4 separate regions of the Homo sapiens genome follow, and all the other regions are linked to region 2. The links come from fine-mapping of genetic effects on gene expression. A gene starts in region 2. Each other region holds a variant in brackets. All regions are shown on one strand. Distances are between the middles of the regions. Region 1 overlaps CALML4 (calmodulin like 4). Region 2 holds the start of PIAS1 (protein inhibitor of activated STAT 1). Region 3 has its middle 99 kb from the start of PIAS1. Region 4 has its middle 76 kb from the start of RNU6-1.

Evidence for each region.
Region 1: its variant is fine-mapped to the expression of PIAS1 in whole blood (TOPMed, PIP above 0.99).
Region 3: its variant is fine-mapped to the expression of PIAS1 in tibial nerve (GTEx, PIP above 0.99). The same link has a PIP of 0.9 or more in aorta, breast, esophagus mucosa, esophagus muscle, fibroblasts and subcutaneous fat.
Region 4: its variant is fine-mapped to the expression of PIAS1 in skeletal muscle (GTEx, PIP 0.97).

Annotation. Positions count from the first base shown.
Region 1 is chr15:68,195,893-68,201,091 of GRCh38, forward strand. CALML4 (calmodulin like 4) reads right to left here. Exons shown (of 5, transcript NM_033429.3): 3 at 3,649-3,789; 4 at 1,548-1,736. Among named protein-coding and RNA genes, the nearest start is that of CALML4, 6.8 kb to the right of the region's middle. RefSeq lists an enhancer at 4,629-5,199. The variant A/G (reference allele first, on the strand shown) is at 2,727.
Region 2 is chr15:68,051,851-68,057,049 of GRCh38, forward strand. PIAS1 (protein inhibitor of activated STAT 1) reads left to right here and starts at 2,465. Exons shown (of 14, transcript NM_016166.3): 1 at 2,465-2,500. The coding sequence starts at 2,477. RefSeq lists a silencer at 2,264-2,763.
Region 3 is chr15:67,952,570-67,957,768 of GRCh38, forward strand. No RefSeq gene overlaps it. Among named protein-coding and RNA genes, the nearest start is that of PIAS1, 99 kb to the right of the region's middle. RefSeq lists an enhancer at 2,480-2,559. The variant A/G (reference allele first, on the strand shown) is at 2,258.
Region 4 is chr15:67,913,598-67,918,597 of GRCh38, forward strand. No RefSeq gene overlaps it. Among named protein-coding and RNA genes, the nearest start is that of RNU6-1, 76 kb to the left of the region's middle. RefSeq lists an enhancer at 4,831-5,000. The variant A/AC (reference allele first, on the strand shown) is at 2,303.

The DNA of each region.
Region 1 (5,199 bases), 140 kb after region 2:
CTCCCTCTGCTGACTCCACCTGCTGTCTAGAGGGCCGGGCAGTGTCCTGGGGGGAGTCTGGGAGGGAAGGATGACCCATGTCTTCCCTATCCATGTGAAAACAGCCACGAGAGGTGAACCTGGAAAAGCTGGGTATGGAGACCCAGCCTGCTGTTGGGCGATTATTTATTTATGGAGATAAAGTCTCATTCTGTCACCCAAGCTGGAGTGTAGTGGCGCAAGCTCGGCTCACTGCAACCTCCGCCTCCCAGATTCAAGTGATCCTCCTGCCTCAGCCTCCCGAGTAGCTGGGGCTACAGGCGCCCGCCACCACGCCTGGCTAATTTTTGTATGTCAGGCAATTTTTAAACTCTGCAGCAATTTTTAAACTCTCTGCACTGTGCCTTAATGGCAGTAGCTAAAATCTGAGCAGAGTGATTTGTAGAGTGGTAGCTCAGAGGGACCTGAGGGGTCACCTACTGTACCCTCATTTCCAGCAAGGAAAGCGAGGTGGGAGAAAGGTCTCCTGGCACCCAGGATTCAAACCACAGCCTCAAAGCTCTCCTCCAGTGGTTTATTGTGATTTAACCAGAGACGGAAAGTCCGTCATATTGAAGCCTCTTTCCAGCACCCACTTGTGGCCAAGCCCAGCTCTCCTGTCCAAACCACAGGCAAGCAGGGCAGCCTACCTAGAAACCCCAGGCTCTAAGGTCGGGGTCCCTGGCCTCGGGCAGAGGCAGAGCTGGCTGGCTGGCTGCTGCGAACATGGCAGGGCTAGGCAGGAGGGTCCGCAGGCTGGAAGAACAAAGGCTGTAAATGGCCTTGGCGTGGGGATCCCCTTGACAGTGTACAAAGGGCTTTCCTAGAAGACCCCAGGCCTCGTCCTGCTCTGAGGCAGGACAGCCTGCTAGGCTGCAGGAAGGTGCAAAGCAAAGACCCCTTTCTCGTGGGGCTCTGGAACCAGGAACCCTGCCTGTCTCGGCAGTTCTCCAACTGTCCTGGCAAAGTTCCCTCTGGAGCCCCTTTCTGGAAGAGCTTAGAGCAGCCTGAGTTGGAAAGGGAGCAAAGCAGCACCTCAATTCGGAAACTCGACCTCAGCAGCAACTGCAGACTGCTGTGATGGGAAAAAGGGCAGGGATGTCTAGACCTGCCTTCGCTCCTGCGCCGCTGCTTGGGAGCCGCTCACTCCCCCTGCTTCTTTATCAGTAGGAGCAGGCATTTGTGCTCCCAGGGGTGTCATGCACTAGATGAAGCCCCACAGTGAGAGCTTGAACACAGGGGGAGACCAGACTGCACGCTCCAGCTGCCCTGCCTTGTGGGTTCCGAGCTGGGTTTCCCCTAGGCTGTCCCTTCACCCTGGCAGACCTCCCTGCGCCCTTCCAGCCCCTCTAGTTCTTCCCCAGGCTCCAGTCCAGCACCCACCTAGTGTGGCATCTGCTCACAGTCTCCTGCGCGCGCATCAACAGAGGTGGTCTGTACCACCCTGGTGGCATCAGCTAGGCTTTGGTGCCCTCCTTCCAACTCCCTAACCCCCTCCAACTGTTGGGAGACAGGACCCAGGCTGTTACCTTCCTTGTGGGTGAGCTTCTCCCCCAGACTCGTGAGTTTTGACCGCAGGTCGGACGCCATGACGTAACCTTTCTTCTCCTTGTCCACCATCAACATGGCTAGAAGAATTTCTTTCTTTGGGTCTTCTTGTTTTATTTGCATGTGCATAATGGTCAGAAAAGTGGAGAAATCCAGCTCTCCATTTCCGTCTAGGAAACCCGCAAACACAGCAGAGTGAGCAGAGGGAAAAAGACTCCTAGGAAGCCAGCTGGCCTCCTGCTGGACCTGCACAGCCGGTTCAAGGTCAACTGACCAGGGAATGCCAGGATGTGGCAGTGGTCACAGTGAAGAGGATGCATCCCCTCCCACCGAGTTCCCACGACAGGCCCCTCACTGGACTGGACATTCTTCATTTCAGCAACGTCCTCAGTGACGATGCTTATCATCACCCCAAAGCTCAAGAAAGTGGGTTCCCAACCACAGATGGAGGACTGGGCTCCTCTGCTCCCTTCTAGCGCTTCCCTCCTGCCCTGAACTGGAGGGAAACAGGTCCATGTGTGCATTCCACCTTTGACAGCCACCACAGTACATCTTACCAGGATGGATCAGCACCCCCACCTGGGGTCTCAAGCCTCAGTCGCAGGCTGGGCTGCTCACCTGCCTTCCCCTCACTGCAGTCTCCATCCCAGCCCCTCCTCCACGGGCCCTGGCTGGGATGTAACTGCAGGAAATCAAAACTTCCCTGGACTACAACTTCCTGTTTGGAGGGGACAGAAATCAAGGAAACCACCACCCCTTTGGAGCTGGACATGGGGGATCTCAGGTATCAGACCACTGAGCAACCCACCGCCAGGCTGCAGGCTTTCAGAGGCCCACCTGGGCCCAGCGTGGCCTGCCCCAGGGTGGGCTCCCAGCGCAACTGCAGGCATCCTCTAGTGGGGCCTCTGGTAACCCTAGCAGATGGTGGTGACCCCCCTGAGATGAGGAAGCTGGTGACCTGAGACTGAGCAGCAGCCTATGGGCTCCGGGTCAAGTGCTATTCCCAGCGGATGCCCTTCCCCTGCGCCAGTCCCTCCTTCCTGAGTGTCCAGCCCCCAATGCAAACAGCAACCCCAGGCTCTGAAACTACTTTTTTTCTTAGAAAAAGCAAAACAAAACATAAAACTTGTTTCTGATTATGAAAAGCTGTATGTGTTCTC[A/G]TTGTTGAAAATACAGGAAACAATAAAAGGAACAAAAATCACCCATAATCCCATTACCAGAGAGAACCACTTGGTAACATCTTGGATGGGTTTTCTTTCAGCATTTTTTTTCTAGCAATAGTTTTTCTAAAAACTATTGCATAGTTTTTAGGTCAGTCTTTGATATCAGAAGAATTGGGTACTAATCCTGATGCCATCATTGGCTCAAGAACTTAATGGATGTAAACCTTGATCTTTGCTTGTAAAATGGAGTTAGGAGAAAGCTGGGCGCAGTGGCTCAGGCCTCTAACCCCAGCACTTTGGGAGGCCGAGGCAGGCAGATCACCTGAGGTCAGGAGTTCAAGACCAGCCTGGCCAACATGGCAAAACCCCATCTCTACTAAAAATGCAAAAATTAGCTAGGCGTGGTGGCAGGCACCTGTAATCCCAGCTACTTGGGAGGCTGAGGCAGGAGAATCACTTGAACCTGGGAGGCAGAGGTTGCAGTGAGCCGAGATCTCACCACTGCACGTCAGCTTCTCGGTGACAGAGCAAGACTCTGTCCCCCCTCAAAAAAAAAAGGTTAGGAGAATGCCTACTTCATAGGGTTTTTGGAGCTAAGCACATGACAAATACTCAACAAAGGGAAATGTTCCTATAAAGCAACATGGGATCGCTGTCAGCGCGATTTTTCTCTGGGTTTGGTAAGTCTGTTGGAACGCCTAGATCCCGAGGTCTGTGAGATGGGGTATCACTGGTTGCTATGAGGATTCCAGGAAGCCCAAGTGAGGTACGGCACTCCTGGTCTGGGGCTGCCACAGCTGGATCCCCAGGAGGCCTCCCTGCCACCTGCCCCTCAAACTGCTGAGCTTTTCACACCTCTACTGTCTGCACCCACCTGCTGGGCCCCTCCCCTCTCCCCGTTGTTCCCACCACCACTCACCTATCCCGTGGGTCTGCAGGTGCCGCTGCACCTCCCCTGGCGTCGGGCTGGCCCCCAGGCACCTCATGGCCACCATGAGGTCGGTGGCTTTTATCTTCCCCCTCTGCTGCTTGTCATACAGGGAGAAGCATTCCTTGTACTCTGCACACGGCCCAGAGGGAGGGTCAGCAGCGTCTGGTCACTCTCCGCCCATGCCGCCCTCCCCATCCTTAGTCTCTTCTCCCTCTTTTCCCCTTCCTTTTGCCTACTCCCTCCATCCCTCTCTCCCCTCCCAAGGGTGCTAGATACAGCAAATGAAAATACAGGACTGCCAAGTTAAACCGAATTCAGATAAACACTGAATATACTTTTATTGTATGCCCCAAATTTTGCATAGGACATATACTTCTATTGGAAAAGTATTTGTTGTTTGTCTGAAATTCTAATTTAACTGGGTGTCCTGTATTTTATCTGGCTCCCCTTCCCTTTCTCCCTACTCCCTCCCTTCCTTCTCCCTCCCCCTCCCCGCCAACCCACAGGACTGGAACTCCCAGGACAGTGCCCCTCCAGGGCCCACAGGGGAGAGCAGGAACCCACAGCAAGGCGTCCAGACCCCCAGGGGACCTCTGCAAACACAACTTTTCTGGACAATGGGAATAATAAGGCCTCAGGATTACTGTGAGAGCCAGAAATCCCAGGAGGCCTGCCAGAGAGTGGCCTTCATATGATGATATTATCATCATCATCAGAGCTGGGGCATTTCTGAGCCTATTGCCCCTGCCCTGGCCTCCAGGCTGCTAAACCCTCAAGCTGTCCTTGGACTCGGGCCCTGGTCCTGTTCTTAGAGACTTCAAAGGGTCCTGCTGGGAAATTCTCCCAGGGTCTGAAGCCCTTTCTCCTTCGGTACTTGGTGGAGGTGGAAGGCAGCCGGAGCTAGCTCCCCTAAACCCACAGACTCCCGGCCTGACACAGCCATCCCACGGGCTCCCGGCCCTGGGAGGCCCAGGAAGGCCAGCTGGGAGTTCAGGAAAAGTCCCTGAACCGCACTGACTGAGCATCTGATTTAGGGGTAGGTGGGGCTGCCATCAGGACAGGGAGATTCTCGTCCAGCCCAGACGAGGCACCCGGGCCTGTGGGTGGAGCCGTGGAAACACAGTGGCCTGGCGCTGGCCCTCCCAGGCTGGGGCTCAGGGCTCTGTTCTCTCTCCTGCTTCTCACACCACCCAGGTAGGTCCTTAGAGGCCTGGACAATAATAGCCCCTTAGCTGATGACAGCAACAATGACAATTCACGTTGCTGAGCACTCCACCCCCAGGCCCTCGCTTCATCCCCACAACCCTGTGATGCGCCCCCTCATATTCCCATGTGCGGACAGGACATTGAGGGCTGGAACACTGAGAGCCTGGCTGTGGGCAGCTCTGCCCACCAGGCCACACTGCCTTCGGTTCCAGGGCAGACACCACTGAGAGCAGTAGGGTGAGGGAGAGGATGCAGAAGGAGCCCCCCAAATCCCCAGCCCAGACCAGGGGTCCCTTCATATTCCCTAATGAAGGCACTCAGGCCTCCCTGGTA
Region 2 (5,199 bases):
TTGTTGAATGTCATATGGTCTCTCTTCAGCTGCAATGACAGAAATACAAAATCATGAGGACACTGTAATCTATAAATGATGTGTTGAGACTGGAAACACAGAATGATGTTAAATGAGGGTAGTGCTAATGCCCTCAGTCTTAGTCACAATTTCACCTAGGTTGTTAAATAAAAATCATGGGATGCCATTGTTTTCAACCAAATTCCTGCATCAGGCCTCCAGATCAGACTAAAAATCAAAATGGTGTCACCCATGTTCACCAAAACAAAACTGAGTTATCTGGTTTTCCAAAAAATGGTAAGAGAGATAGCCAATTTTCCAAACAGAAGTTTCAATCTTTAACAGGCATGATAATGAAATTTCCTGTTTTAATCCTTAAAATAGAATACCTGAAGTAACCCAATGTTAACCAATCAGTTTTCTTTCTACTGTTCTGTCTCCACGTCTCCACCTTAAAGAAAAGTGACTTTGATATAACCAATCTGCTTTTTGTTGTTTCTGCCTTCTTCAGTCTATTTTCTGTCTCTAAAGTTAACATCCTCTGCTTGATTCATTGCAACATTTATTCTATTTTGTGGAATGAAGTTTTGTCCAATTCTAGGAGTGCAATAATGCCAATGAGATCTTGAATCTCAATTTGTTTTACTTTTGTTTCTTGACAATGGAGAGGTTTAGGCTAGAGAGCATTTTCAAAGTCATGAGCATATAGACTTCAAGTCAACCAGTTAGATGAGATCACCTGGTGATAAAATAGAGAAGAATGCAAGGACCGAGCCCTGGAGCAGTCCAACATTTAAAGATTGAGCCAAAGAGGAGAAACCAGCATATCAAAAAGGAGGCCCAGTGAGGGAACAGGACTATCTGTGACGTGTAGGTAAGTTCAGGGGGAAAAGTGTTTCAAATCAAAGGAACCATGTCAATTATTCGCGATTCTACAGAGAGGTCAATTGAGATATGGATAGAGAATTGGCAATTGCCTTTGGAAACAAGATCATTAGTAATCTTGATAAGTGATACAGATGATGGAAGCCAAAGCTCGATCAGGGTAGACTGAGAAGTGAATGTGAAGTGAGAGGTAGGAACAAGCACTATTGGAGAGATCTTGAAAAACCTTTCTAAGAATTTATGAAGATAGCAGAAAAATAGGGCAGTTCCTAGAGGCGATTTTGGAGTCAAAGGAAGTTTATTTTAGATGGGAGAAATTTCAATATATTTATATGCTGATAGGAGCAATTCAATTGAGAGGGAAAAAACTAACGATGCTGGAGGGTAGGTAATTGTAAGAGTAAAATCCTTAGGAATGTGCGTGAAAAAAATCCGGTCACTGGTAAAGGGACTGGCCTTCCTAGGCGCAGGGACACTTCATTCATAGCAACCCAAATGTTACTATGCAGATAAGGGTGGTTTTGATGGTGAGAAGATAAGGGAGTTTATTTCTGATATCTTTCATTTTTTCCATGAGTTATGAGGCAAAGTTGATTAGTAAAAGTGGGGGTTGGGGAGGAGGTATATAGAAGGCTTTCAGTAGAGACGAAAAGGAATGAAATAATCCTTCCATCAAGTCTACTTAAATGTCAATTTAGTGGATAAAACCCTCCCAGAATTAAGTACATCTCCCAAACCCTTTCTCTCTCTCAATGACCTTTTGCTCCTTTCTGGTACTCACTAACATTTGCAATTGTATCTTTGTTCGTTCACTTCTCTGATTCCCCATTAGAGAACTACAGAAGGGCACGGACTTTGATTTCAAAATGTATATTTAGCCGTTAGCACAAGGCAAGCAGATGGTCACTAAATAAATACTTTTTTAAACAAAAATGTTAATGAACACCTTCAAAATTTTGTCTTACGCCACCTCGTTAAAATACTTGTTTGTGCAAGTCACTTTTCCTCTCTGAGCTTTCATTTCTGAATCTATACCATGGGAATTATCTCTTCCTTGCCTACCTCCCCTCGTTATCAAGAGGATCTGAGCCAATAATGATAGAAATGCTTCATTAAGGGCCCCTTAAATGTAATGGATTTCTATTTTTAGCCCACTGGTAGCCTCGCAGGTAGCAGGTGCTGAAAAAGCCTTGCTTATTGGGGGTTGGGGGACAGCATTGTTTCTGTGACCGTAGGCGTCGAAGCTATGCAGAAGCGTTCCGCGGACCGCAGAGAGATGGGGCTCAGGCCAGCATCCCTCTCGCTCCGGCCCTTCCCGGGAGGAGCTGGCCGAGCTAGGATGGGGGGCAGGGAGACCGAGGGGGCAGTAACTGTCAAACCTCGCCGCTTGGCGCCATTATTTAAATGGAACGTGCCTGTCTCGCAGCTGTACGTGCCCGGGGCGGGGCTTCGAGCGCCCTGAGCGGGGCGGAGGCTAGAGGCGGGCTGGGAAGGTGGAGGGGCGGGCCGGGGCGGGGCCAGGCCGGCTAGAGGGGCGGGTCTAGCGGCGGCCCCCGGCGAAGTTCACTGCGCTTGCGCTGACAGACGCAAGATGGCGGACAGTGCGGAACTAAAGGTAAAGCGCAGCTCGAATTCACTTCTAATATTCGGCCGCGGAGACGGCGCCGCTGCTGCCAGGGGGGATGGGTCCGACCCTGGGGGGCCTCTCGGGCCTGACTCCACCCGGGCCTGGAGTTGTAGGGAGAGAGGCGCGCCCGGTCTCAGCAGAGGGGGCCCGCCTGCGGCGGGCCGCGGGCCCCGGGTGCCTCGGGGGCGCTGACGGGTCGTCCCCGGCGTGTTATTGTTGTGGGCGCCTCTGGCGGGGGTGGCGGGGGAAGAGATAGGGAGTCCGGAGGTAGGGGCTGCAGCTGTCTCATGGGCTCGGCTTTTTCACCTTCCAGTTAGCCTCCCTGCCCCCCATGGGGAGCTGGGGCTGGGGGCAGGGTGCTCTCGTAGGGGGGATTGGGAAAGCTCCCCGTGGCCGCTTCCTCTTCCTCCTTTGCAGTCCCGGGCTCCTGTCAGGCGCTCTTCTCAGACCCCCGGGAACTTGGCTTCGGCCGCCCCGCCCCTCCGTGGATCCCAGTAGCCCCCGCCCCGGACTCGGCTTTCCCCGGCTGCTCGCTTGTCAGGAAGCGCCTGGGGTGCCCCGCTTGTGGGAAGCGCGATCCCGGGGCGATAGGGTGGGGATCTGGGGGAGAAGCTCTGGTAAAGTTTAGCGAGCCCCGGGCCGGCGTTGGGGTTCGGCTGAGAGGTAGTGAGCGGGACGTTACTCTTTCTCTCTGATTCCGGGCAGCCGAGGGGAGAAACCCCCTCGAAGAGTGTGTCTTTGGAAGCAGTGTTGGGAGGGGGGGATGCAGCTACCTCTCTCCCTTCTTTTGCCTTAGCTGGTGTGGAGGGTGAGAGGAGCCTTTGGGGGTCTCTGCACACACCATGATGGCGATGCTGTAGCTGATGGAGGTGAATGGTTCGTGTTTATATCCCCCCATTGCCTTTTGTTTGTAGGGACATCTTGCTGGCCATGTTGATTTGAACGAAATTCTCCCCTCATGCTACTCCAACCCCCGATAAATAGAACGTTCCTCTTAACAGTACCAATTACTCACGCCTCACGAAATTAGATGAAAGGGTGCCCCCTTTTCCCCGCTTTTCTCCCACCCCAATCTTTACCTGATGATGGCTTCTTTACCGTAGCAGATATACCACTACACAAGCAGTTGGGGGAGGGGGTGGTGGAACCCTTATGACTGGATTGTGACAAATGGGGCTCCGCTTGAATAATTTTGGTTTAGTAGCAGGCAGTTCTTAACTAACGCGTATTATTTCGAGGCTCTGAACGCGATCTTCTCTGTGGCTTCCTGTGTGTGTGAACCCAGCAGCTGGTTATGTCTCGACCCAGAGAACTGACATCTCTGTCAGAGAGGAGATGGGGATATACAATTGTAAATCTTTGGGGAGAGTCTTCTTTTTATAATAAATAAAAATTATTTAATTTTTTCCCCGTTATAATGAAACGACAACTTCTAGAACAACCAAATGCCAGATTTGATTCTGTAGAGTTTTTCCTGTGGAATATCCTCACCGAAAGAGCTTTTCTCCTAATAACTTCACAATGTTTACACTCCAAGATTCGTATGTTAAGGTATTGGCTTTGAGTGTCATTCTTTTAAAATGTACTTCTAATTACAAATTTACTGAAGGGAGAGCAGATTTACAATGGATGGTTTTGATTTTTCCCCAGTTTCAAACTATTGACTGAAATGAGAAAGCCTTAGGAATTTGAATATTTGGAGATAATTAACCCTTGAAATAAAAAAAAGCACACAACTTTAAGACATGTTTTCTATAATTTTTCTCTTAGAGTCACTATGTTGCTGTGATCTTTGCCTTGTAATATTTATTTTGTTAGGAGTTCTTTTGAATGATAGCTAATCAGTTGTTATACATGGACCATAGAATAAAGCTGAAAAGCATGTGCAGACTATATTGTCACTCTTGATGCTGTCCAAAGAAACTAGTATGGAAAGCACATGCTGAGAGATTTCCTTCTTTGTTCTTTCTCATTTTAAGAAAGTGCCTTTGGGGATAGATCAGATCCCTGGTGTGAGTCTTGTTAGGTAAAGTTTCTCTTTACGAAAATGAACCAGTATCAGATAAACACCAAACACTTGAAGAAATGTTATTTTTCTAAAATTAATCTCGTTTTTTGTGCTCTCCCAAATCTACTAGAGTTTTTCCAGAGGAAGTTTTTTTTTTCTACTCTTATGTTCCTGTTGTATAATTTTTCAAATTATAATAACTGTTTTGACATGTTGGTATGTCATTGTGTGTGTCTGAGACTTTGAGGAGCTGTGTGATAAATTGCTTAGCTGGTGATAGCGGCGTTAAAAAAATTTGGTTAATACTTTATTGTGGTTAGATTTGCTGTTCTTTTTTTGAGGGGTGGAGGAGGTGATCTCAGGAACGCCTACCATAGTTATTTGAGAATGTGTTAAAAAAAAGAGAATGTGTATATATAATTTTCTGTGCAGTAAGGTTTGGCAGATACTCCTTTTGGAAATGATATTTTCTGAAGGCTTTTTGTTTGTGATTTTTTGGAGGTAAATATCATACATTCCTAATATGATAGGAAAAATCAGAGTAAGAAGAAAAAAATCTAGATTTTTTGAAATTTTAAATGGGAATAGAGTACTTCAACTGTGAAGCTTTACATAAAACTCAGTGACTTTTCATTATTTTAGGTTTCAGCCCCATACTTCATTTTGCTGTGGATTGTAT
Region 3 (5,199 bases), 99 kb before region 2:
CAATCAATATGTCCTTTCATAGGCAAATGGATAAATAAACTTTGGTATATGCAGACAATGTCAAGTGATTCAACACTAAAAAGAAATGAGCTATCATGCCATGAAAAGACATAGAGGAAATTTAAATGCATATTACTAATGCATTTTCCAATGTGAAAATGTTGCAGACTGTATAATACCAGCTATAGAGCATTCTGGAAAAGCCAAAACTATGGAGACAGTAAAAAGATTAGTGGCTGCCAGGGGTTAGAAGGGAGAGAGGTATGAATAGGCAGAGCATGAAGGATTTTTAGGTCAGTGAAACTATTCTGTGTGATGCATGTCATTATACATACGTCATTATACATGTATACAATGGTAGATACATGTCATTATATGTATGTCAAAATCCATAGAATGTATACCACCAAGAGTGAATCCTAATGTAAACTATGAACTTTGGGTAATAATGCTGTACCCATGAAGGTTCACTGCTTGTAACAAAGGTACCATTGTGGTATGGGATGTTGATAGTGGAAGGCTGTGCGTACGTGGGGACAGGAGTGGGGATGGGAACTCTCTGTACTTTCTACTCAGTTTTTTTGTGAACCCAAAACTGTCCTAAAAAGTAAAGTTTATTAATTTTATAAAATGGTTAAGATGGTAAATTTTATGTTATTTTTATTTATTTATTTATTTATTTATTTATTTTTAGCACAATTTAAAGAATCTAGAACTGGGCATGGTGGCTCACACCTGTAATTGCAGCATTTTGGGAGGCCAAGGCGGGAGAATCACTTGAGCCCAGGAGTTCAAGACCACCCTGGGCAACATGGTGAAAACTCCATCTCTACAAAAAAAAATACAAAACTTAGCCAGGCATGGTGGTGCATATGTCACCAGCTACTCAGGAGCTGAGGCCAGAGGAGCCTGGGAGGTTGAGGCTGCAGTGAGCTGTGACTGCACCACTGCACTCCAGCCTGAGTGACTAAGCAAGACCCTGTCTCAAAAAGAAAAAAAAAAAATGAAAAGGGAAATTAAAATAAAAAAAAAAACCACACACACTGCAAAGTCTCACTTTCATTCCATCCTGTTCTTGTCGAAGAGGCAACCATTTAAATTTATCCTTTCAGTGTTTTTATGCAACTTCCACAAATATAAGTAATGCATATGTTTTTCTCTTCCTTTCATTCACAGAAAGTAACATCCTATATACACTGGTCTACACTTCCTGTATATTGTGTTTTCACTTAACAATCTATCCTGGAGATCTGTATTAAGCAGTGCTGTCCAATAAAATAGTCACTACCCATATATGGCTATTAAGCAAAAATTAAATACAATTAAAATTTAGCTGGGTGCAGTGGCTCACGCCTGTAATCCCAGCACTGTGGGAGGCTGAGGCAGGTGGATCACTTGAGGCCAGGAGTTGGAGACCAGCCTGGCCAACATGGCAAAACCCCGTCTCTACTAAAAATACAAAAATTAGCCAAGTGTGGTGGCACGAACCTATAATCCCAGCGACTGGGGAGGCTGAGGCACAAGAATGGCTTGAACCCAGGAGGCAGCAGTTGCCGTGAGCCAAGATAGCACCACTGCACTCCAGCCTGGGTGACAGAGTGAGACTCTGTCTTAAAAAAAAACAAGATTAGTTCCTTAGCTGAACTATTCACATTTCAAGCAGTCAATAACCACATGCGGCTGATGGCTACCATTTGTCCAAGAATAGAATATGTCCATTATCACAGAAATTTCTTTCAGAAAGCACTGGTTATAAACATCTTCCTCCTCCTTTTTTACAGCCATATAATACTCCACTGTGTAACAGTTTATTCTACCAATCCCTTCCTGGAGACATTTGAGTTGTTTGCACTATTTTGCTGTCATAAACAGTGCCCTATCATCACATGAGTTTTTGTGGAATAGGTTCTGCACTAACAAAAGGCATGGTAAGATAAGGCTGTGACCTGAGGCAGTGATTGCTCTGCAGGCAGGCCATACCAGGGTGGGATTTCTACTTCCGTGGATCTACTCAGTCCTTAGCTATGCAAATCTGGAAATGTTCAGGCTGATGTCACATTAGCCACACTCATAAGACACTATTGGGCATCAAAAATGAGCAATTACTTGATATTAAATGGAGGTAGTTCTTTAGATTTAGTGAAATCCTCGTGTCTGCTGCCTAAGACATTGCCTTCCCAGAAGGTAAGCCTTGCCCAGGGGAAATGGATAATTCTGACACATATTTCATCCAGACATGACAGGTTCCTGTTCCTAA[A/G]CCAAGTATGCCTCTCCTTTTATCGGAAAGCTTGTGTTCACTAGGATCACCATTTCCTGTGCAGCATTTTCCCCTGGGCCATCTTTGCACAGATGCCTGGGAAACTATTCCTCTTCTGCCAGCTCTTTCTTCAGGCAGTACACAGTGTGCTCGGGAGGTTTCACCTTGTTTGGTGATGGTCATGTTTCAGTGCAGTTTCAAGTCCTCCCCAAATTCTTCAGTTATATAACCACAATGTCTTCAATATTGCTATTGTGACATATGGTGGTTTTAAAATACGCCTAAAAATTCTTTACTACTCTGCTCTTCAAGTGATGAAATTAGCTGAGCATGGTGGCATGTACCTGTAGTCCTAGCTACTCAGGAGACTGAGGCAGGAGGATCACTTGAGTCCAGGAGTTCAAGTCTGCAGTAAGCTATGATCATGCCACTGCACTCCAGCCTGGGCCACAGAGCGAGACCTTGTCTCTTAAAAAGAAAAAAAGATGGAACTTAATTCCCTTCCTGTTGAGGGTGGACCGGACTTTGTGACGTACTTGTAATGAATAGCATGTGGCAGAAGTAACAGTGCGTGCAGCTTCTGTGATTAGGTCTTAAAAGGGAATGTGGCTTCCTCCCTGTCTGGCTTTCTTGAATTATTCATTCAGGGTAGGCCAACTGCCATTTCATGAAGACACTCAACTAGTCCTGTGGAGAGGTCCACGTGGTGGGAACTGAGGTTTCCTGCTAAAACCCAGCACTAACTTGCAGGGTGAGTGTCTTCATGCATTTTGTGCTGCTCTAACAGAATACCTGAGACCGGGTAATTTATAAAGAGCAGTAATTTATTTCTTCACAGTTCTACACACTAGGAAGTCCAAGATTAAGACAGCGGCATCTGGCAAGGGCCTTCTTGCTGTGTCATCACATGGCAGCAAGGCAAAGAGAGAGAAAAAGAGGGGATGAACTCATCCTTTTGTAACAGTATCAATCCCACCTCTGAGGGCAGAGCCATTACGACCTAATAACCTCTTAATGTTCCACCTCTTAATACTATGACAATGTCAGTTAAATTTAAAGACAGATATTCAAATCATGGTGCCAGGTGCAAGAGCCACCTAGGAAGTGGATTCTCCAGGCCTCATCCAGCATTCGGACGATTGCAGACCTGGTCAACTTCTTGAAAATCTCATGGGAGACCGAGTTAGAACCGCCCAGCCAAGCTGTTCCTGACCCACAGAGACTGTGTGAAATACTAAGTGTTTATTGTTTTATGCTACTAAATTTGGGGAAAATTCATTAGCAGCAACAGATAGCTAACATATCTAGATGGCTGAGATCATCCGTTTTTGTTTTGATCCTTATTAATTTCCCTCTTGCAGGGTTATCTTGACTTCTAATCTACAGGGACACTCGAGAACACTAACCTGTGAACCATCATTTTCTTATCTGTAAAATGCAAGATTGGTATGAAGGGCACAAAGCAGGGACTTAAATGGAAATGATTAATATTGTTGTCGATGCTCATTAATAATGGAAGCCTTGGGTATCTTCCATTTGCCCCTCCATATCCATGTCCATTTCCAATCTTTTCTCACCCTACTCTGTGCCCCAGGAGGGGCTGACTTCCATGGACTATGTCAGTGGCCTCTCTGGTTCTCAGCCTTCCGGTAGAGTTTGGCAAATGAGAAATACTGGCAGGAGATAGGAGGAGGGCCAGAGGAAAGGGATGTATTTCCTTGGTTTCTTCCTTTCCAAGTCACCATGCTTTATCTTCATTCCTCTACCTCAGGCCACCCTGTCTTGGTACTGGTAACTACTGTCTCCTCTCTCCCCTCCAGGCCTCTGAATGATAACTGCTCCCCTCTTTTGCTAGCCCCAGGGTGTGTCAGTGTCCTTTGGTGGGCTCCCTAAGCTCTGTCTGCACAACTTTGTAAATAGTCCCTGTATTAAACTCACCTCAAATTGTATAGATCCCCTGCAGGGATCCTAAATGAGAATGGCTAGTTTTAGTTGCTTTTAATAATGATCCTGGATTTTTTAAAAGAAACAAACATTCTATAACCAGAAAGATTTCTGAGAATCCAAATAGATACAAGATTGAGCTTAGAAAAATCTAAAGAAATGGTTGTTTAGAATATCCCAACTTGAATTATCTGGCAAATGTACGTATCACAGATATGAAAGGAACCTTGTTTCCCTCCTGAGAGCAAAACCCAGAACCTCCAAGCAAAACCCAGGACCTCCAAAGTCGTCTGTGGAAGGAGTATAGCTGGAGTAAGACAGCAGGGAGAGCCAGGCGCCATGGCTCACACCTGTAACCCCAGCACTTTGGGAGGCTGAGGTTGGCGGACCACTTGAGATCAGGAATTTGAGACCAGCCTGGCCAACATGGTGAAACCCCATCTCTACTAAAAACACAAAATTTGTTGGGTGTGATGGCGCATGCCTGTAATTCCAGCTACTCGGGAGGCTGAGGCAGGAGAATCACTTGAACCTCGGAGGCGGAGTTTGCAATGAGCCAAGATCTCGCCATTGCACTCCAGCCTGGGAGACAAGAGCAAGACTCCATCTCAAAAAGAGAGCAGTAAGACCAGTGGGAGAGGGCAGTTGGCCAGCCTTGACAGTGTTTCCTGAGAGGACACTTCTCACCCTGAATGCTACTGCCTCCTGCCCACAGGGTGTTGCTGCTTCTCTTTCATGCTTTCCCTAGAACTTCAACAACAGCAACAAAAGCTTTATAGATATTTAAGGAGACCAAAAAGGAGAAAGCCTGAGGAAGAGCCATCCACTTAGGCTGCTCCTCATCCTACTGGAATGAGGAAGTGTAGCTTGGATTCCCAGCCTGGCTGACTTCTCCAAGCGTTGACATCTGTCCCACCCCATGGGGCCAACACACCTTCCCAGGCACCTGCCTGAGTTTCTCATCTTCGAAGTGGGCATAATACTATATTGAGAGGGTT
Region 4 (5,000 bases), 140 kb before region 2:
TGTGTATATATATATATATATATATATATATATATATATATATATGAAATGAAATACTCAGCCTTAAAAGAGGAGGAAATTCCCATAAATGCTACAACATGAATGAACCTTGAGGACGTTATGCTAAGTGAAATAAGACACACACACACACACACACACACATACACACACACACACACACTGTATGATTCCCCTTATTTGAGATATCTAGAATAGTCAAAAATCATAGAGACAAAAAGTAGAATGGTTGTTGCCAGGGGTTAAGGAAAGAGAATGGGGAGTTAGTGTTTAGTGGGTATAGAGTTTCAGTTTGGGAAGATAAAAGTTCTGGAGATAAATGGTGGTGATCATTGTGCAGCAGTGTGAATGTACTTAACACCACAGAACTGGTCAATTTGGCCAGGCATGTTGGCTCACACCTGTAACCCCAGCACTTTGGGAGGCCATAGTAGGAGGATTGCTTGAATCTAGGAGTTTGAGACCAGCCTGAGCAACATAGAAAGACCCAATCTCTACAAAAAATTTAAAAATTAGCTGGGCATAGTGGTGAACATCTGTAGTCCCAGCTACTTGGGAGGCTGAGGTGGGAGGATTGCTCAAGTCTGAGAGGTTGAGGCTGCAGTGAGCCGTGATTGCATCACTGCATTCCAGTCTAGGTGACAGAGCAAGACCCTATCTCCAAAAAAGAGTAAATCTGATGTTATATATATTTTGCTACCATAAAAACAAACAAGCAAACACCAATCTCCTTTTCCTTCCATTCCTTCTTTAATTATAGTTTTAGGAATTTCCCCCATATGTTCTATTATCAACAACAGCAATGATTAACAAAGAAACATTTTGTAGAGTGTTTTTTTTCCCACAATAACTATAACGATTATATTATTTTCCAGTAAATGTGATCATTACGGTTATATAGGCTTTCATGTTCAAACACATTTAATGCTTACCACCAGCCTGTTTATACCTCAGTTTTCTCCTATGTCAGTTCTAAATTTGGATTCATCATCTGTCTCTAACATGTCCTCAAGTAGAGTGATATATTTCCTGGTGAAATAATGATGAGAAGCTATGTCTTACGTAATGTCTTTAGAGGAAGACCTTCAGGTCTCAGTGGTAACAGCTCCTCCCCTGTGGCTGCAGGCTATGGGATTGTAGCACCATCCTCTTGGTTTCCCTTAACTCTTGCCTATACCTCGTCAATAATCCCTTTACTAAACTCTCTTCCATTACCAAGCTTGTGAGTGGCTTGTTTCCAGCTGGGACTATGACTGATACAGCCTCTGCCGCCTCTGCTCTCCAAGCACCCCTTCCTTCCTATCTCCTCTCCCTCTCTTTCTTTTCCTTTTTCCATCTTCCACTCTTATCCCTCCTTATTCTTTTCCTCCTCCTCCCTTTTGGAGTGAGGTGACATGTGGGCTATGTAGGTTAGCATATCACGCTCCGCATCTGGCCCCTGGCTGCCCTTGTCCCTGGGTGGTCAAGAACAGAGTATTCCTTCTTTCTGAGCTGCTCAGTGTTCTGGCTGCTTTTCAGAATGTGCAGCCCATCCCCCAGCCTCTCAGAAGCCCCACCCCAGCCAGCAGCCTGACAGAGCTCACAATTCTGTTTTAAGCTTACTCCCTTACAACTAGTTTTATTTCCTAGTCTGACATCTTGGGAGGATGGGTGAGACCAAATCTGTTACATCAGTGTCTAGATGGAGCATTCGCTAGTTCAGGCCAAGACATTATGAGTTTCATTTTTATGGCTCTCCCAATCCTTGTGTGTGCAGATTTTATTGTGTTAGGAGTTAAAAATGTAATAAGCAAGGAGAAAAAAAAAATTAAGTCACTTCAGCTAAAGACTACAGCCTAACAAAATCCTTAACAGACGCTTGTTAGTCCTGTTGCTGGGAAGTATTTGTCCAGCAGACCTGGAACAGTTTAAAAAAGGAGTGGGGGTTTGGTTAACATTAAAGAAACACAAAGATTTTTCATCTGGCTCTGGGGGAGACCAGAGCCACAGAGGGAACAAGAAAAGAAAGAGGGGATTGAACATTTTTGCAAACAAATGATAAAACTGCCTTTTAAAGAAGGAGGGGGGATCCCTTGTCCAAACAAGACTTCTGCCAGGGTAGGAAATCATTTCTGCAATTGTTTACAATGCTCAGGCAGCCGGTCCTAAGTCAACATGGCCTGGGAGCGTTGCCCTGGAGCCTCCTGCCTTTGCCAGCCGCCTGCCATCTCGAGCTCAGCTATTTCTGGGACTTAGCTCCCTCCCTTGAAAAACAAACCGTGGCCCTCACTGTCATACCCAATAA[A/AC]CCCCCCAGTTTGTGCAGCCTTAATCATGTTTTCCAGAAGAGTTCTCCAACTGACGGCCTGGATGCAATGTGTTGGGCTCAGGAGAGCCAGTATGTGTGGGGGAAGGGAAGCTCTCATTTGTGGATGCCAAGATGGAAATTTCCATTGCAGTACAAGATGGCTTCACCTGTGGCCAAGGAAACCTACTTCATCTCAAAGAGGAGAACTTGGCTAATGAACAGCCTGAAATTTATGTCCTTTCTTACAGTTTGTTCCATAAACCCAGAGCAAAGTTTGCTTTTACTAAAAAGCACCATAATTACTAGTCATAACCCTTCACATCTGGTTGTCACTTAGTGTAGAAGTCTTTTCACTTCTGTTATCTCATTTGTTCTCCACCATGAGAAAGGCATTATTAGTCCCATTTATTTACCTTTTTTGAAAAAAAAAAAAAAAAAAAAAAAAGATGAGATCTCACTATGTTTCTCAGGCTGGTCTTGAGCTCCTAAGCTCAAGTGATCCTCCTGTCTTGGCCTCTCAAAGTGCTAGGATTACAGGTGTGGACCACTGTACCCAGTCAATCCCATTTATTTAATTAATCCATCTATTTGTCTCCTTATTTGGTGTTAATAATACAGTCATGTGGCTTGAAAATTTTAAATTCCAGTGAAAAGATGTCTTCTCTTCTACTCTTCCACAATTCTTCTGGTCTCTATCTGCCCACAGGTAACCACTACTGTTCATTTTTCTGTGTATCTCTCCAGAGATGCTTTATGTATATCTAAGCAACTTGGGGTGGTACAAGGAGAAAGAGTATTGCAGAGAGACAGAAAAGTCCCAGGCACTAGGCCTAGCTCTGTCTCCAGTTGGCTGTTTGACATTGTGCATGCTACTTTCCCTCTCTGAACCTCACTTACCTCACTTACGTCATCTGTGAAAATGAGAATAAAAGCTAACATTCATTAGGCTTATATGTGCCTGCCACTGTGATAAGTGTTTTTATATGTGTTAGTTGAATTAAGCTCGCTACAGTCCTATAAGGAGGCACTGTAAGTCCCATTTATCCATGACAAACTGAGGCACAGAGAAATTAAATATCTTGCCCAGGTCCTAGTTAATTAGAGGGAGAGCCTGGGTTTTATGAAGCTAGGTAGTCTAACAGTAGAGCTCATTCACCACTTAAACCCCTGCGCTATATACGGCCACTCATTTATGATACTGGCACTACCAAATGATGGCTTGAAACAGGAGGCTGCCCCAGAGTGGTTCCTCCCAATTTAGGTATCTAAAATCCTATGTCCAGTTCCCATAAAACCCTGGCCAGGCAGCTCTGAGTCACTCAGCCCCATTCAGATGGGATGGTGACAGCTGGCAAAGAGCAGCAGACAGCAGGGCAAGGCTCAGGCATGAACCCTGATGTCAGACCAGTGCTTCCCCCTGTGTCCCTCCAGGGGAATCAGGACAACTCCTTAATAAGAATTTCTTATTTTTTATCAGAGGTAGTAACGCACGTAATTTAAAAAGCCAACTCATATTCAGAGACAAAAGACAGCAGCCCAGAACAAACACTTTTAACTCCTTTGGTTAGTTCTGTATATATTTATCTCCCTTATTCTTGTCAACCTTAAATAATATTCAGAAAGTATGATTAAATATAGAGTTCATTTGAGCCCAAAGCTTGAGGATGGCCACCCAGGAACATGGATTCAAGTTGCCCTGAATATACATTCTAATTAGCAGCACCTACAAATGGGTTTTTAAAGGGAAAAAAAGAAGAGGCAGTTCCTAAGTTGTTTAACAAGAATTTACATTAAAGTAACATAAGCTATTAATTGGTTATACATTGTTCTTTGTATCACAAATTCTAGGAACATGAAGATAATGGGTGAGGCCAGCTAGTCAGGAACAAAATGCCTTTAAACAATTGCCCCCAGGGCATGGGCGGGATGCAGAGGTGGGGGTGAGGGATGAGAGTAGGGGCCTGACTGAAGTCCCAGGTCTCTCTGAGCCAAGTAAATTTTGCATACCTCTCATAGCTTACAGCAGTCTGAGCTATTTTTCTTTTTTCATTCTAAACCTAGATAGTAAATATTTTCAGCTTTGTGAGCCATACAATCTTTGTTGCAATTTCTCAACTGCCTTATATCTAGAAAGCAGTCAGGCAATATATACATAAATGGACATGGCCATCTTCCAATACAACCTTATTTACAAAAACAGATTTTTAAAGCAAAAACAGATTTGACCTGTTGATGCGGGATTTTTCTCGGTCACTTTGCCAGCCAGAGACCTCCAGCCAGCAATACCCCTGGCCCAGGCCTTGCTCGGGCCTGGGTTCACCACAGGAGAGGCCCCATCTACTGCTGGGCTATGCCTGGCTTGCACTCCAGTGTGGGTGCTGTGTCTGCTGTGACTGTGCTGGCAGGAGGGGATGTGTGAGCCAGTGACAGCAGGGTCCAGCCAGCTGTTCTAAGAGCCGGCACAGGAGTGGGATCCATGCAGGGCTTGTGGCTGAACCAGGTGTGTCACAAGCGACTCCTGTGGTAGACTCTGGTGTCCAGACGAGGGGAATGTGGTGGCACCCAAGCAGCGGTGCCCTGGACCCTGAAGCCCAGAGGGTGTGTTACAGTGTGCTAATTAGCTCTTTTAGTCCCATTTTCCGTGGCCCAATGGATGGCAGTGTGTTAACAGCTCTGTCAGCCCCGTTGACCCGCTCCA